Regions from separate parts of the Homo sapiens genome. Here all the other regions are linked to region 1. Evidence: fine-mapped expression QTL. A gene starts in region 1. Each other region holds a variant in brackets. All regions are shown on one strand. Distances are from middle to middle.

The links. PIP is the estimated chance that this variant, and not a neighbour inherited with it, causes the effect. A credible set is the group of variants that fine-mapping cannot tell apart.
Region 2: its variant is the best candidate, but not a certain one, in a credible set for the expression of WHRN in atrial appendage (GTEx, PIP 0.87).
Region 3: its variant is the best candidate, but not a certain one, in a credible set for the expression of WHRN in stomach (GTEx, PIP 0.79).
Region 4: its variant is the best candidate, but not a certain one, in a credible set for the expression of WHRN in left ventricle (GTEx, PIP 0.87).

What each region holds. Positions count from the first base shown.
Region 1 is chr9:114,503,219-114,507,550 of GRCh38, forward strand. It overlaps WHRN (whirlin), which reads right to left and starts at 2,255. Exons shown (of 12, transcript NM_015404.4): 1 at 966-2,255. The coding sequence starts at 1,583. RefSeq lists enhancers at 744-1,634, 1,635-2,525 and a silencer at 2,050-2,349.
Region 2 is chr9:114,550,223-114,554,554 of GRCh38, forward strand. No RefSeq gene overlaps it. Among named protein-coding and RNA genes, the nearest start is that of ATP6V1G1, 35 kb to the right of the region's middle. The variant G/A (reference allele first, on the strand shown) is at 1,713.
Region 3 is chr9:114,425,709-114,429,708 of GRCh38, forward strand. WHRN (whirlin) reads right to left here. Exons shown (of 12, transcript NM_015404.4): 4 at 503-705. Among named protein-coding and RNA genes, the nearest start is that of AKNA, 40 kb to the left of the region's middle. The variant G/GAC (reference allele first, on the strand shown) is at 2,071.
Region 4 is chr9:114,448,409-114,452,408 of GRCh38, forward strand. All of the region lies in intron 3 of WHRN (whirlin), which reads right to left. Among named protein-coding and RNA genes, the nearest start is that of WHRN, 55 kb to the right of the region's middle. The variant A/C (reference allele first, on the strand shown) is at 2,278.

The DNA of each region.
Region 1 (4,332 bases):
GGCGGGGAGTGGGGGTTTACAGAACAGTCCAACCCCCTGAGAAGCATTTCTCTGCAGAAGCAGAGCATGTGTCCCTTTTCCCCCAAACTCTTCACTTCTTGTACGCAAAGGAGGTCGGGGGAGGGGGGAAGGGGGAAAAATGCCTGCAAAGGATCCATGAATCCACCCTGGACCCAACACTATCCATCATACTCCAACTGGTTTTCAGTAGCCCTGGGCTGTAGATCAGTAAGCACACACACTCCTTTAAAAAGCATGATTAAATCCCTGGAAGCCTGTTGTCATGAGGTTATATTTCTCAATTAACAAATGGCAGAAAGGACAAACACTCTCAGGGGCTAGGGAATTTATTTTTTACATTCAGGCAGGAGTCTCATTTCCAAAAAGGTTAGGGACCGCTTATTTGGTCCAGTGGCCCCATTTTCCAAGTGGAGAACAAGAGGTCCTGAGAGGGCAAGTGACTTGCTTCAGGATACACAACCTGGTCCAAAAACAGCAGCGTCAAGCCAGTGCACTGTGGATCACACAAACGGCCTCCTCAGGCCACTTAAGAGCTAACAAAACTGTTTCAGGGAAAAACAAAAAACAAAAAACCACAGAATGGCAGTAGCAAAGGCCACCTAATTATGCCAAGCAGAGATTTTATCTCTTTTAATGCTCATAAGAATCCACAGCCCTATTCACACATTGTAACCACACATTTGCTCAAGTATTTGTTACTATCACCTGCACTAGCTTTTAAGCCTCACAAAGGCAAGGGCCATGTCTGTGCAGAACTACGTTCCCAGTGCCTGAGAGCTATTTGCTCTGTAAGCTATACATTCCTGTTTTAAAGTATTAAAAAAAAAAAAAAAGCCCAGAAAGGCCAAGTGATTCATCTAAGGACACACAGCATGGAGTTACTGAAAAAGCTGTGCCACTCTGTCCATACTCTGCCCCAGACTCTCTCCAAACCACAGCCTTACCTTGACGGCCTCCGCGTGGGTCACCCGGGCCAGGGATTTGTCGTTGACGCGCAGAATCTGGTCCCCGACCCGCAGTCCTTCCTTCTCAGCTAGAGAGCCTGGTTCCACCAGAGACACGTAGATGCCCACGCCGTGCTCCGAGCCCCCACGGATGCTGAAGCCCAAGCCCTCGTGGGCCTTGGCACGCCGCAAACTCACCAGGCGCACCTCCCCTGGCCCCGCGCTGTCGGGGCCGCCCCAGGCGGGCTGCCTGTAGGGGGTGGTGGCGGGCAGGTAGAGGCCCTCGGCCGTGTATTGGTCGAAGAGCAGCTGGTCGGAGCGCGGGATGACCAGACGAAGCATGGGCAGCAGGCGCCGCTTGACCGGACTGTCCAGCAGCACGCGCAGGGTGCGCACCAGGTCGAAGACGTTGCGGCGCGCGTGGTAAGCGTTCAGGCAGTGGGTGAACTGCTCCCGCTCCGCCTCGCTCAGCAGCGCGGTCAGCGCTTGGTGCAGCTGGCGCACGTTGGCAGACAGTAACCGCAGCCCCGCGCCCCCGCCGCCGCCCGCCCCGGCCGCCGAGCCCAGCGAGCCGGTGGAGGACGAGCTCACCGACAGGCCGTCCAGCGGCGCGTTCATCTCCACGCCGAGGCCCGGCCGGGCTCTGAGCGCGCGGGGTGTGGGCGGTGCCGCTGTCCTCGCGGGTACTGGCGCGACAGCTGGATCCCCGGGAGCGCGGAGACGACGGCTGGAGCCTGGGTTTGGGGAGCACGGGTACAGTGGCTGGATCCTAGGGGGTCGCGGAGACCGCTGCTAGAGTCCCGGAGGCGCGAAGACGGCGGGGGTCGCGAACCTGGAATCCGGGGGACGCGGAGACGTCGGCGGGTTCCTGAGAGACACAAGAGTTGGCTGCTGGAGCCCGGAGGTGGCGGAGACTGCTGCTGGAGTCCGGGGGGCGCGGGGTCAGCAGCTACATTCTGGAGGGCACGGAGACGACGGGTGGCTGGAGTTTGGGGGCGCCGCAAAGCTGACCTGACTGCCCCGTCACACCATGCCCGGGGCTCCCCCAGCCGGGCGCCCGTTCCTCTAGGGCTGGGGGACCCCAAAGTCAGAAGTTGGGGCGGAGGGCGCTCTAGTCCCAGAGCACTCCGGGGAGTGGCAGCCGGTGAAGCGGCGCGGGCGTCCGACAAGGGGTGCGGGGCATGTCCGGGGCAGCCCCGGGATGCAGCCGCCCGGGGAGCCTCCGCGCCTCTGCGCCGCCCGGCCGCAAGCCCGGACTTTGCGAACTGTTGAGCCACCCGGGCCGAGTCTTCCAGCGAGTTCCGACGCCGTCTCGTTGCCAGCCCGGCCCGGGCCCCGCCCCCTCGTCCCTCCTCCTGCCCGCCCCCTCCCCACGGGCTCCTCAGGAAATGACGTCCCGCCCGGTGCGCCTGGCCGTTGCCTGGAGACGGGGTGAAACAGTCCAGCCCCAGGGAAGAAAGGGGTGAACGCGGCGGTAGGGGTGGGAGGAGCCCCCGCGTCCCCTACCCCGCCGGCAGAGCCGGGAGCGGGGCTCAGAAACAGCGCTCTTCGGCGGTCGCAGCGAGTGCCGACACCAGGATCGCTTTGGAGTAATTAGCCGGCTAGCTAATTCACAATTCGGGGGGAAATCGTCAAGTTTTTTGTTTGTTTGATTTTTGCTTCCAAAATACTGGGCACTTCAGTCTCGGTTTTCTTCCTTACAATGTGGCGCTCCCCTCCTGCACGCGCCCTGACATGACAAATTCCAGGGTTTATGTGGACGGTCGTTGGCCACCTACTGTGTGCGAGAGACGAATACAAGCATAGACTGCTGTCTGCCGGAGTCAACTCCGTGGCAGGGATGGATCAGGCTGGACCCCTTCCCAGTCTCCATTGCAAGGGAAAAGCCACTTTCAGAAATATTATATAAAGTGTACACCCCACGCTCGCGCACACACGTACAAATGAGCGCATATAAAACTGGTGAAATCTGAGTAAGGTGGGTGGATTTTATCAATGTCAATGTCCTGGTTGCCATCGTGTCAACATCGGGGGAAACTGGGTGAAGGGTACATGGCATGTCTATGTATTATTTCTTAGAACTGCATTTGGATCTACAATCTCAAAATAGAAATTAAAAATATACATATTTGAAGTGGCTTGGAGAAAAATCTCTTCTATGCTCTCCCATCCCTAGGCAAAATGGGAAGATACACCCAGGTGTGCCCTGGAGTCGGTCGTCACCCACCCAATCCCCCAAATAAGATTTAAGTAAAATCCTGTGCTTTTATTCTAATGGGGAGCTTCATAGTGCTACACACACACACACACACATACACACACACACCCTACCTCACACACATCCCTTCCAACCTGAGCTGCCTCTCCTAAGCTACTCTTCTATGTATTTTTCGTAAAAGTCTTCCAGAATTTCCATTGCAGAGCCAGCTGACATCTATCCAGGGTAGGGCAAGATGGAGGATTACCTGGAGGATTTGGTTTGTGGTGGACCCAGAAGGATAGATCATTCATTTATTTATTTATTTATTTATTTATTTATTTATTTATTTATTTGGTCGCTTTTCATTCAACGTTTTTGAAGCATCTGCTCTGTGCTGGGTCATGTGCTGGGTGCTGGAGACCCAGGGGAGAAAGATCAAATAAATAGAGTTAAAAACCAGTGTGATACCTGTTGTAATGGCGAGGGAGCCCAGGTTTAGGAGAGGAGAATATGGTAAGGACTTTACTGAAGAGGCGACACCTGAATGAAGAACCTGTAAGGAAAACGGACTTTCTCCTCTAGACAATGGGGAAGAGTGGAAAGGTTTTCAACACTGCTGACTTAATGCATTGAGGCTAGGAATGGAAGCTGTGTTTTCCCTAAAGATCTTCAATTCTTTACTTCCCTAAAACAGACATAGGTTAAATTAATGCCCAATAAACATATTTAACAGTGTGTCTGAGGAAGATTTTTTAAAAAATAGCCAATTAGGCTACCTTTGGCCATCTGTCTTAAAGCTCTAATCTTAGCAGTTAATGGTGTCTATCCTTATTCCTCCTTTGTAACTGTTGTTGAAGCCTTTCATGCAACTAGACCAAGATGTTTAAGGAAAAAAAATCAATCTTCTCCACCCCAAAAATGTATTAATGACATACCTCAAAATGCCACCAAGCAGGGCTTAATTGTATGCAGTTCAGGTTTCCTGCTAATGTGTTTCATGCTCAGCTCTCACTTAGTTTGTTTTAATTATAATTACTGTGATTGGTTTGATAAATGCATCCCAGGAGCTAAGATCCCCAGTCCCAACATTTTATTTCTGTGCAAAGGATGTTTTCAAGAAGGTGTTTTGCTTTAGGCAGCAGAAACCAGGCTGCATGCAGTCTTAGT
Region 2 (4,332 bases), 47 kb after region 1:
TGTGAGCCGTTCTGCAGCTATTCAAAATCCATTCAATGTTTTTCTCTAGCGATTGTAAGTACACTGTTCTTGGTATTGCCTCTGTCACCAGCTAAATGATGGAGATATTTCCACTCAGGATCTCGATAGACTTGTGGCTCTGGCAACAGATGTGTGTGAACTGATGCACTTGGAACACCTGGAAGCAGGAGGTCGGCTGCTCTTGGAGGACCTGCTGAAGTCTGGACCCCATTGTTCTTCTTTTCTTTTCTGTTCTTTTCCTTTCTTTTGAGGTGGGGGCTGCCTCCTGGAATGGGCATCTCCACTGTGGCCAGGGGGCAACTGGGAAAGAGGTGGTCAGCAGCACCTTGACCTTGAGTGGGCCCAGATCTTAGATCTCCAGCCCCTGCTACTTTATTTCTCCTTCTCCCTCTTCTACAGAGATGGGGTCTCACTATGTTGTCCAGGCTAGAGTGCAGTGGCTATTCACAGGCACAATCTCTGCTGCTTTAGAATGTCCTGGAGAGCTTTCTGAAAGTCCAAGTTCCAGTCTCTATCCCTGCAAGACTCTGAATCAGTAGGTCTGGGGAAAGCAATTCTGATTTTACAAAGCTCCACATTTCTTTTTAAAAAAATATCGATGGGGTCTCACTATGTTGCCCAGGCTGGTCTCAAACTCCTAGGCTCAAGCAATCCTCCTGCCTCAGCCTCCCAAAGTGCTGGGACTACAGGTGTGAGCCTGGCCAAAGCTCTTCACTTCTAAAGGGCAGCCATGCTGCAGAATCCCATCAGCATGAAATGTCCAGAGGCCAGTGTCCTTCCTTTTCCAAGGGGCCCTCTCGTTTGTCCCCCAAGGCACCTCTCCTCCTAGTCTCTAAGGCCCCTCACTGGGACCCTTCCCCTCCATGGCTTGCCTAGGGTTACCTTTGTGGAGTCAGAGGTTGTTAGGGAGGAATATGTAGAACCACTGACCTAGTGCAACCCCTTAACTTTCTATTAAGGAAACCAACGGAGGACCAGGGAGGCCAAATGAGTTTCCCAAGATCACATAACAAATCCAGGGCTTACCGACCAGGGTGCACACCTTGGGAGCTGGAAAACTGTCCCGGGCCTGCTCTCACACAACAATGTGTGGGTTGTTTTTTGTTTGTTTGTTTGTTTTTGTATTTTTTAAATTTCATTAATTATTATTATTATTTTTTTTTTTTGAGACAGGGTCTTGCTTTGTTGCCTGGGCTAGAGTGCAGTGGTCCAACCACACAGCTCACAGCAGCCTCAGCCTTCCAGGCTCAAGCAATCCCTCCCCCTTCAGCCTCCCAAGTAGCTGGGATAATGGGCACAGGCCACCAAGTCCGGCTAATTAAAAAAAAAAAATTTTTTTTTGTAGAGATGGGGCAGAGGAGGGGGTCTCCCTGTGTTTCCCAGGCTGGTCTCAAACTCCTGGCCTCAAGCGATCCTCCCACCTTGGCCTCCCAAAGTACTGGGATTACAGGCGTAAGCCACTGCACCCAGCCTCACACACTCTGAATTATGTGGGGTGGGGTCCTAACTAACTCACTGAGCCTCCCAAGCCAAACTCAACCGCAGCTATTCTCCATCCCAAAAGTGGGAAGGAGCTGCCTATTGAGGGAGAGGTGGGCCTTCTTCCCATTCTCCATCTTCACCTACAAGCTATCCACTATGCAGGGGCTGCTTGGAGTTTTAACACTGATCCAGTAGCTCACCTGGCTCTT[G/A]CCTAAGTAAATTACCTTTCTCCCTTGGGGTTGGGGAGGTGTGGGTCTGGGTGGTGGGCACTGGCTTTACCTCCAGCTCAGCTCCTTCTCTTTGGTCCCGCCTCCCAGGGTTTTATGTGTCCATATAACCACTGACTCAGGGTCAGCTTTTTCCAGTCTAGTGCGTCAGCACAAGTGAGTGATAGAGCCTGAAGGCCATTACTCAGGGGAGGATGGTGGTGAGTCATCACGAGAGACTCCTTCCCTAGTCTGGCCACTCTGCTCCAAGCTGTGCTGGGAGACAGAGAATAATAACACCTTTTGGACTGGCCTTTTAAAAATAGAAACAATGGAGTCTGTGGCTTTAGGAGGAGAGGTCCTGGGAGTCAGAAGCTCAGTCCTGCTAGCTTGTCATTCCTTGGAGGATGCTGGCTACTACTTTGCCCACCGGTAATTGAGGGTGTTGCCCTTGGCCATTTGGGGTGGGCTTTCTGAGTCTTTTAGAGGTTGCAGAATCTTACATGTGCTATAAACCAAGGACACACCCTACCCAAAATTTATATACACATTCATGCAAAATGTGTCATGCAATCTCAGGGTTTCATGGAACCCGCTGACACCCAGTCATGGGCTCCTGGCAATGAATTCCTGATCTCTGGGCTCTATTTGTCTAATAATTCTATGAAATATGTTTCTTCCAAATTCTATACTCCCCACACCCTCCATAAAATCATTTTTTAAAACATTTTTTTGTCTTCATTTATTTAAGAAACATTTATTGAGTGCTACCCACTCCTGTGGAAAAGTCCAGTATTGCTGGGAGAGAGAAAAGAGGAAAGGCCTCCACCTGGGGTGTCTGCAAGAAGGGCACGGACATTGGAGGTGCAGATGCACTGAAGAACTGATGGGCAAGCAAGATAGATGGTCAAGGTTGGCACTCAGAGGGGTGACCGTTACCCGCCCCTCCACCCCTTTCCCCGGCTTGTTGTAAGGGCAAGATCCTTCCCTCAACTCCAGAAATGAGTCATCATGTGTCTATGCCAGCCCTGGCAATCCCATTCCCCTTTTTGAGTGTTTCCAACCCCAGTTTTGGACAAAGAGACCTAAGGGAAGTCAGTGTGCGACCCTCAATTCCTAGAAAAAAGACAGAGCCTCAGAAAGAAAAGGCTTTTGGGCTGGATTACAGGTGGCTCACACCTTTAATCCCAGCACTTTGGGAGGCCAAGGCAGGTGGATCACTTGAAGTCAGGAGTTCGAGGCTAGCCTGGCCAATGTGGTGAAACCCCATCTCTATTAAAAAAAAAAAAAAAAAAGAAAGAAGAAAAAGAAGAAAGAAAAGACTTTTGGACCATGCCTGTTCTTTCTGCTTTGGAAGGTTGGTAGCAGAGTTTATGCCTAATTGCTATCTTGTGACTTTGAGATGACAAGTGTGAACATGAAAAACTAACAGCTTAGGCGGAGCCAAAAGATAGGAAGAAACTGGGCTGTTGATCCCAGTGCTCATCACCTCTGAGCGGCCCTGCATCCTCTGGCTCCTAGTCTTCTAGGAGACATAATAAGGTCTATTTCATTTAAGCCACTATTGGATGGGTTTTGTAACTTTTAGCCAAAACCATTGGTCACTGATTCAGGTGAACAGTCCCAGAAGTACGGGGTATGCACAAAGGACTGATGGATTTCTAAGCAACAGGACCATTGTGGTGACACGTCAATCAAGTCACCCACCTGATAGTATTCCCTTCTCAGAGCATGCGTATTCTCACAAGGCTTACTGAGAAAAAATGAAATTGGTCCACACCTTTCCCAAAAAATATTAGAGGTCATTGGCCAGTGGGTAGTACGGTGTTCATCCAGGGATACCCCTTTGTCTTTTCCCTAAGGCCAAGACAGACATAGGGCTCAAACTGGGGTGTCTGCAAGAAAGGACACTGGTAGTCTGTTCCACCGTTGGACATCTGTTTAGCCAGCTGATTTGCAAAACTTCTCATCTACTACTTGAGCTGGGGAAAATACTTACGAAATGGCATGGCGGAGGCTGATCAGGTAGAGAGGGTGCCAGAAAGGTCACCTTGAATTCTTACTCCCTAGGAATTAAAAAAGATGAACTCCACACCTTCACATAAAATACACTGTGAATGGTGCCTGAGGAGGTGGGCAAACATGGTGGTCCTGTTGCACTTCAAGGGAAGAGCTGGGAAGTCCATGGCCGAGTATCACCACCTCTAATGTTGAAGGGGATGGTAATACTCAGTCTGGCATCTGTTACTAAGATCTGTCCCCAGACCATTTGTCTTCTAGAGGGGGTTACAATTAAAACTTGATGGACTGTCTCTGATTCCCATGACACCAACTAGGTGTACAACAATCCGATCCTATTCTGACATCGACTAACCAGAATTAGTGTCAGACTCCATAGGTTTAAGGGCTCAGTGCCACAAGACAGCCCTCACTTGGGACGCCAGCCATAAGTCCTGGGTTTCTGGGCTACCTGCACTTTTGTCCAATTTGGCTACAAATTCAGAAATCCCCATGGCCCATGCCTGCTTCAGGTACTATAATTTGCTAGAATGACTCACAGAACTCAGGAAAATACTATACCTACAGTTTATTATAAAGGATACGAATGAACAGCTAGATGAAG
Region 3 (4,000 bases), 78 kb before region 1:
ATGAAGATCAAAAGGTGACACATTACACTGTTGGCAACTATGCAGCCACCTGGCAACTGGATCTCAGTTTATGACTTTAAGACCCTCTCACCCAGATTTCTTCATGGGATCCAGCCTGGTGGCCTCTGGCCAAATACACCCCAAAGCATCTCTCTCTTTCCCTCTCCCTCCCTCTCTTTCATCTGCACAGATCTGGGATGAGGGCAGGGTTATGGTCCCCACTTTTTGGATGAAGCAACTAAGGTCTATAGAATGAGTTAAGTAATTTGGGGACAAATAAAGAATGAGACAGTTGGATGGTGTATTTCAGCTTTCCATGGGGAAACTGAGGCCAAGAGAGGAGAGGGATGTGCCCAGGTCATGTCCTGCCAATGGAGGGCCCTGGTGTGGGGACTGCAGGCTGAGAGGAGAGCCAGGGCGGTGGAGGGATGGGAGGCAGCTATCACTGGCTTTCAGAAATGGCCCTGGGGTCTGGAGATTGGAGCGAGCAGAGTGGCCAGACCCTGCCGAGTTCGCCATGGTCTCCCTGATCCGGGAACTGGCGATCCACTTGGTCTCGTCCACAGTGGTGCGGGCATGGGGCAGCCTCCCGACGTCCTTCACTGTCAGGATGAGGTGCCGAGATGACTTAAGCAGCCTGACAGCCTCGTCGTGTAGGATGTTGAGAAAGCTCCGCCCATTCACTTCTAGAATCTGGTCCCCAACCTGCCAAGATCACCACACAATACAGTCACCTGGGCTGTTTGCAGGATTCACACTAGGGACTTCACAGCCCAGATCCCAATTCTCCTCTGGGCCAGCCTGTCAAGGAGGTCATCCAGGATCAGAGAGGATGTGAGGATGCCTGAGGGTCACACAGCAAGTCAATAGCAGTGCTGGCCTTCTGATCCTGACCCAGAGTCCATGCTCTTGTCATCAAAAGGGGGCATGTCCCCATGACTCAGCAATGGCTTTGAGGGGTGGGTCTACGATGACATTCCAAGGGTCCCCTTATCTAGAAACAACAGTCATCTCAGGGCCAAGGTGGGCGTGAAGCTGGGGTAGGATGAGGCAAGCCATGAAGGTGGACATCCGTAATTTTCCTCCTACACTTGTACTTTGTTGAGGTTTTTACCTCAACCATGCATTCTTATATTACCTTAAAATGTAAACAAAACTTTAATCTACTAAAAGAAACAGCAATAAATGAGAAAATTAGTTTTCCGTTAAAGCAGTACATATGGCTTAGATTCTTACAAGGAGGCAGCTTTATTTTGTAATTAAAAAAATATTTCTGGCAGGTACAGTGGCTCATGCCTGTAATCCCAGAGCTTTGGAGGAATAAGGTGGGAGGACTACTTAAGCCCAGTAGTTGCAGACCAGCCTGGGCAATAGTGAGATTCCATTTCTAAAAATAATAATAGCCGGGCACAGTCGTGTGTGCCTATAGTCCTTAGCTACTTGGGAGTCCGAGGCAGGAGGATTGCTTGAGCCCAAGAGTTCGAGGCTGCTGTGAACTGTGATTGCACCACCATACTCCAGCCTGGACAACTGAGCAAGATCCTCTCTTTTTACAAAAATACTTTTAATGAAGGAATGTAAAAACAGAGGCAAAAAATAAAACTAGCCTTCCAATAAAAACAAATATGTGACAGAAATAGAAGGGGTTGAAAGGGAAGATGCTGCAGGGTATGATGGGACCGCACCTTTAAACTCGGGGTTCCTTTCACAAATGGGTCAACTGAGGTCCAAGGACGGGAAAGGGCTGCCCAGGGTCATGTGCCACTGAGGCCTTGAAGGGCAGCCTCACAATGCTGGTTATTCTTGGCTGTTTTTCCTTTTCCCCAGTTTCCCAGCCTGCTGAGAGCACATGATCAACTCCTGTAGGTTTATCCAGCATTTTTCAAAGATTTGGAAAAGGTAAGACAAATGGGAGCTTGGGAGAAAAGAAGATGGGATTACCAGGCTGAGAACCAAAACCCTGCTCCCCAGTTCCCCGGCTTTTCTTGAATGCCTCACCCCAGTTGGGAGTTTCCAGTATAGAAAGTGGTTACAAAGACAGACTTTACCTCTCTCCTCTGCACCGGCTTT[G/GAC]ACACTCAGGGGAGGCTTGCTGCCTCTGCCTCCATGACTCTAACAGAGTGGGGTCTGTGCTGCATTTCAAGCATTCACCACCATTTACTGCAATGCCTACTGTGTGCTGGGATGTTGTGCTGAGCAGGATAATCTGCTCCTGTTCCATTTAGCTCACGATCAAGGGTGAGCTCAGCTTTGCGTGATGACTGAGTTTCCCCATCAGCCTCTCCACACTGTATCCCCAGGGCCCAGCACACAGTAGGAATTAAAAAAATCATCAGATGAGGCCAGGCATCGTGGCTCATGCCTGTAATCCCAGCACTTTGGGAGGCTGAGGTGGGCAGATCACTTGGGGTCAGGAGTTCAAGACCAGCCTGGCCAACATGGCAAAATGCTGTCTCTACTAAAAGTACAAAAATTAGCCCGGCGAGGTGGTGCGCCTGTAGTCCCAGCTACTCGGGAGGCTGAGGCAGGAGGATTGCTTGAACCCTGGAGGCAGAGATTGCAGTGAGCCGACATCGTGCCACTGCACTCCAGCCTGGCTGGGTGACAGAGCAAGACTCTGTATTAAAAAATAAAATCAGATTAATAAAAAGACACGCATTTCCATCTATTCCAACTCCAGGACCATCTCTGCTGCAGCTCAGAGATGCACATTACACCAGCCTTCTTTGTCCCTTTATATGTTTTCTCCTTAATATCACCAACATCCTATAAAGTAAGTATCATAGCTCTCCATTTCACTAGAGAGGAAACTGAGGCTCAGAAAGGTTAAGCACATAGTTTGTGGTCACAGTGCTAGTGAAAAGGAGTGCTGATTTGCACATCCAGGTCAGGCCAGCACCAAGGCCCCTCTGCTTTCTACTGCTGGGCTGCTGCCCGGAGCGCTGTTTGGGGACCACGTGATATCGCTTCAAATCCAGCGTGTCCAAAGCTACTGTGCTGCCATCCTTTCCCTGACCCTGCCTGCAGCAGCCAGATCTGAAAACTTCATCTCATCATCAACTCTGCCTTTACCCCCCTGAGCAGATCCTTCAGCAAATCCCGTCCTCCACCCCCATCAGCCCCCTGACCTCGGTTCCTACCTGCTCCCTCCCACGTGAGCGAGCTAGCATCCTCATCACTGTGCATTTACATCTAAACTGGCCAGACATAGTACCAGATTAATTTCTTTTTTTTTTTTTCTTGGAGACTGAGTCTCCCTCTGTTGCCCAGGCTAGAGTGTAGTGGCGCAATCTCGGCTCACTGCAACCTCCACCTCCTGGGTTCAAGCAATTCTCATGCCTCAGCTTCCTGAGTAGCTGGGACTACAGGTGCACACCACCACGCCCAGCTAACTTTTTGTATTTTAGTAGAGGTGGGGTTTTGCCATGTTGCCTAGACTGGTCTCAAACTCCTGAGCTCAGGCGATCCACGCGGCTTGGCCTCCCAAAGTGCTGGGATTACAGGCGTGAGCCACCGCGCCCCGCCAGTGTCAGATTAATTTCATCAACTTTTTGCTTTGATGACATCTCTCCCTGCTTAAACACCTCCCATGACCCCTCATAATCTAGGAGGAAGCAAAGCACTATGGCTAATGGTTTCAAAGACAATCAGATCTGGGTTCAAATGCTAACTCTATCACTTCCGTGCCACATGGCCCCACAAAACCCACAATAGCTTTTGTGCCTCACTTTCGTTGGGAGTAAAAAGGGAGTCCTAGCCCAGGATTGTCCTTCTCCAAATACCTAAAGTCAGCAGCATCTCAATGCCACATGCTTTCACCATGCCCCCAGCAATATCTGCAATTCTCTTTCTCCCTTTTTATGTCTCTGAGCTCCCCGGTTGAGAAGCCAGGGCCCCTGAGAACTTCGGCAGCCCTGGCTGGTCTCCCTGTAAAGAGCGTGAGACAAGACCCAACACCTGGCTCGGGGCTTGGTACTCAGCAAGCACTCAATCAGTGCTTATG
Region 4 (4,000 bases), 55 kb before region 1:
TACATTTCTGTTGTTTTAAGCCACCCAGTGTGTGGTCATTTGGTATAGCAGCCCTAGGACACTCACATAGAAAGAAGGGCCTAGTCCCCTCTCCCCCTTGAAACTGCCTGGACTTGTGACAGCTTTAAACAAGAAAGCCCAGCTGAGGGATACTCTGTGCCTTCTGAAACTGGGCCATCAAAAGAATACAGCCTCCACTCACCTCTCTCCCAGCACCTATCCCCTGGAAAGCCCCCCTAAGCCACCATTCTTAGAGGCAGCCCAAACTAGCACTGTGGAAAGATGACAGGGAGAGGTCCATGCAGGAAGCACTAGGGCCTCCAGCCCATAGCCAACATCAACTTCCAGGCACAGGAGGAAACAGGCTTCCAGATGATTCCAGCACCCAGATGTTGAGTGTTCCAGCTGCGGCTGCAGACATCATGGAGCAGAGACACATCACCCCTGCTGTGCCTTGTCACTTCCTCACCCACAGTACCTGGGAGCATAACTTGTGGTTACTATACATCCCTAAGTCCTGTGGTGGTTATGCGGCCACAAGAACCACATTTGCTGAATCATAACTGGCACTGGAAAAGGTCCCTTGGGAATCTGTATGCATGGTCAAGTGCCCAAAGCACTGCCCCATATAGTTACCTACCTCTCCCAAAGCCCTTCATGTTTCTATCCCACAGCAGAGGCTGAAGAAATGCTCACTGGTAATCATTTCCCTTATGAAAGAGGGGACCGTGCTGACCTCAGATTCAGTAAACCATATGTACCCACAAGCAGGCATTTAATTTGGCATGACCACATGTAAAGCCAGAAGGGCAACCAATGACATTTCCGGGGCCAGTCAGCTCTTCATGCCCCTACCCTATTCCAGGACCTTTGTTCAGCCACTTGGGAATGAGATGAGAAGGAAAGCCCACAGACATCCCCAGCTAGTAGCCTCTCTCTGGTGGACAGAATGGTTCACAGGGACCCTGAGCACACGAACAAATGATCTCACCTTTTCCTGTGGCCAAGCTGCAAGTGAGCTCTGCTCTAATGGGCGTGCCCAGAGAAATTAAGTCTTTTTGGCAGCAGCCTGCCTTGGCGCAATTACCACCCTACCAAGGGCCGCTGTAAAGACCAGGCCAGAGGACTAAGCATCTCGAATTTCTGCAATTGATTAAACACTCATTCAGAGAGGCCATTTCAAAAATCCAACTAAGAGAGTATCATAAGGAAGGACTGAGAAGGTGGCACAGCTGGGGGCGGGTGGGGAGCAGAGGCTACAGCAATCACTCAGCCTGTGGCAGGTTCTTGGGAAATAAATCACCTTCCGGCTCCTTGGGAAAGACGTTCATCATCAATGTCAATTCATCAGCTATCTGAGCATCGCAGATGTAACTGCAGATCAGTCTTGCCACAAGCCAATCGCTTAGACAATTACAGCTACCATTTCTTTTTGGTTGCTTATCATGTGCCAGGCACTGGGCTAGGGATTTTATATGCATTAGCTCATGTTGTCTTGACAATATAGTACCTAGGATATAGGTGGTACTATTATTATCATTATTATCAAAAACTGGAATCTACAGGAGCTTGGGAAGCACTGCTCCTCTATAGTCTCTACGAAGGAAGCAAGAGCCAACTCTGAGGCTTAGGACTTGTGGACCCGCCCAGGAGTGAGAGGTGGCTACTGCACCTCAGGGATAGGCACTCCCGAGGGCATGGCTCATTAGAAAAAACCCACTCCAGCAAAAGGGGCTGGTGGGGAGGCAAAGCCCAGTTATCTGAGCTGGACCTCAGCAAGGACAAGGAAATTGTCATCCTACCTTCTGCTGAAAAAGCCTGGGGATTTTTGAAGCCCCAAAGCAACCAGGTGCTGGAGAGGTTGCTGCTCTGCCACAAGTCCTCGAAAGCAGGGGCAGTGTGGGGCCAGGGCTGGAGTGCCAAAGAGGGACAGGCAGGATTAGCCTCGAGTTTATTCCATCCCAGAGGGACAATACAAGACTGTCCCCTAGCCTGGGAGGAAGGCCCCACTGTGAAACTGCCCTGGCTGGGTGTTAGAGGACAGAGCCAAGCCTGCAACCTTGGCCAGCCCCTTCCTGGTAAGTGGCCATGGGCAAATCACTTCCACCTTCTGAGCCTCAAGCAAGACTCATGCGGTTACCTTACAAGGTTATACTGAAAATCAGGAATAATTTTTAAAGCTAATTAAAAAAATACTTTTATCTGCATCAAGTGCTTGCTAGAGATTCTCTGGCTACATCTTCACCATGTCCCAAGAGGTATTATTACCCCAGCTTT[A/C]CAAATGAGGAAACCGAGTCTCAGGGTGATAAAGTGACAAGACAGGTTTTACACACCATGCAACACCACCAGGGAATGTCATCACCGCCCCGGCACACAGTAGGTGTCAGAAGTAGCTGCTATTGTTATTATTATTAGTTTCCCCCCCCGCAAAAAAATACTTTCTGCTGAGATACAGCTTTAGTCATACATTCTCAATTAAATAATTTTAAAAGTTGAGCTAGGCCCATGCTCTCATGTGGGAATGACAGACATTGAATCATCTGGGCCACGGGTCCCCCTTTTCTGCCCCATGGCAGACACAGCGCTAAGTGACTCTTAGCATTAGCTAACTATCCCTTCTTGCAGAGCCCGGCTGCAACCACACAGGTACAAACATGTGTACAGGCGCACTAATGAAATGGCATTGGCATGCAAGAGATCGGTGACTTGCTGCCCTTGGGAATGGAAAAAGCACTGGATTTGGGGTCAGAAAAACGTGGGCAAAGCCCATCCAAGGTAAAATAGAAAGTCCTTTGCCAGTCTGAGGCACTGTGACTTTGTGCTCAGCTGTCCCTGTTGGCATCAGCACAGAGGTAAGGCATGTGGCCTTAGGGAGGCCTGCCTTTGAATCACAGCTTCTCTGCCAACTAAAAATATGTTTTGGGGCAAGCTGCTTAATCTCATTGAGTCTCGGGTTCTTTATCAGTGAAATAGGCATGATGAAACTCAGGAGATCCTCCTGGGGCTGCCAAGAGGACGGAGCAAGATGATTTCAAGGAATCACCTGGACAGGGCTGGGCCTGCAGCAAATCATCAATAAATAGTTGCTTTTATGGCATTGTTATTATGGAGACATCAGAAATATCACTGTGGGGGTGTGTGCGCATGAACGCACACACCACACACACAGGAAAACCCCAAGTGAAGACCATTCGCTCCTCCCTAATTTTCACAAAGCAGTAAATTCAAGCTGCCTACAGGGGAAGGCCCTGCCCTGTGTCCCTCCCCCAGTCTGCCTGAGAACCACTTCACAAAGAGAGGACCCATCTAAGTTCTGTAAGAACCTCTGGGGTTCACCAGAGAAGGTATGAGGAGAGGGAAGAGATGAGAATGGGACTTCTGTGACTAAGTGCTAGACCCACCTGGGTTTGAATCCCAGCTCTTCTTCCTATTAACTGTGTGACCTTGGGCAAGTTACTTAACCTCTCTGGGCTTCAGCTGCCCATCTGTAAAATAGGGATAATACCAGAGCCTCCTTGCAGGGATGCTGGGAGCATTAAATGATTCACTGTAGGCACAGTACTCACTAAGCACCATGGTGGGACAGAGGGCGGACTCCCAAAATGCTGGCAATTGCTGTTGTTATTCCTGCATGTTAGAAATAACTAGAAGACTGCTCACCCTAATGACTTATTTCTGTTACTACTATTTCCTCAGCAACATAGGAAAGGTAAAGAATAAAAATTAAAATTAAAAAATGTATCATTACTGTTTCCTGTTATCACCACTACCCTCATGCTGCTGTATCTTCTGCCATTTTCACCATGCTTTTACTTAAACACATCCTGAATGGCCAGAAGAATCCTCCGGGTTCCAAATCTAAAAAGCAGAGTGTGCAGAAACATCGGGCAGGTGTCACCAACATGCTGACGGCAGAGAACCGGGCAGAAGTGGGGAGAGCTGGCTGGCCGGCTGCCAAGGGGCGTCAGCCTGAGTTTCCATCACGCAAATTCAGGGTTAT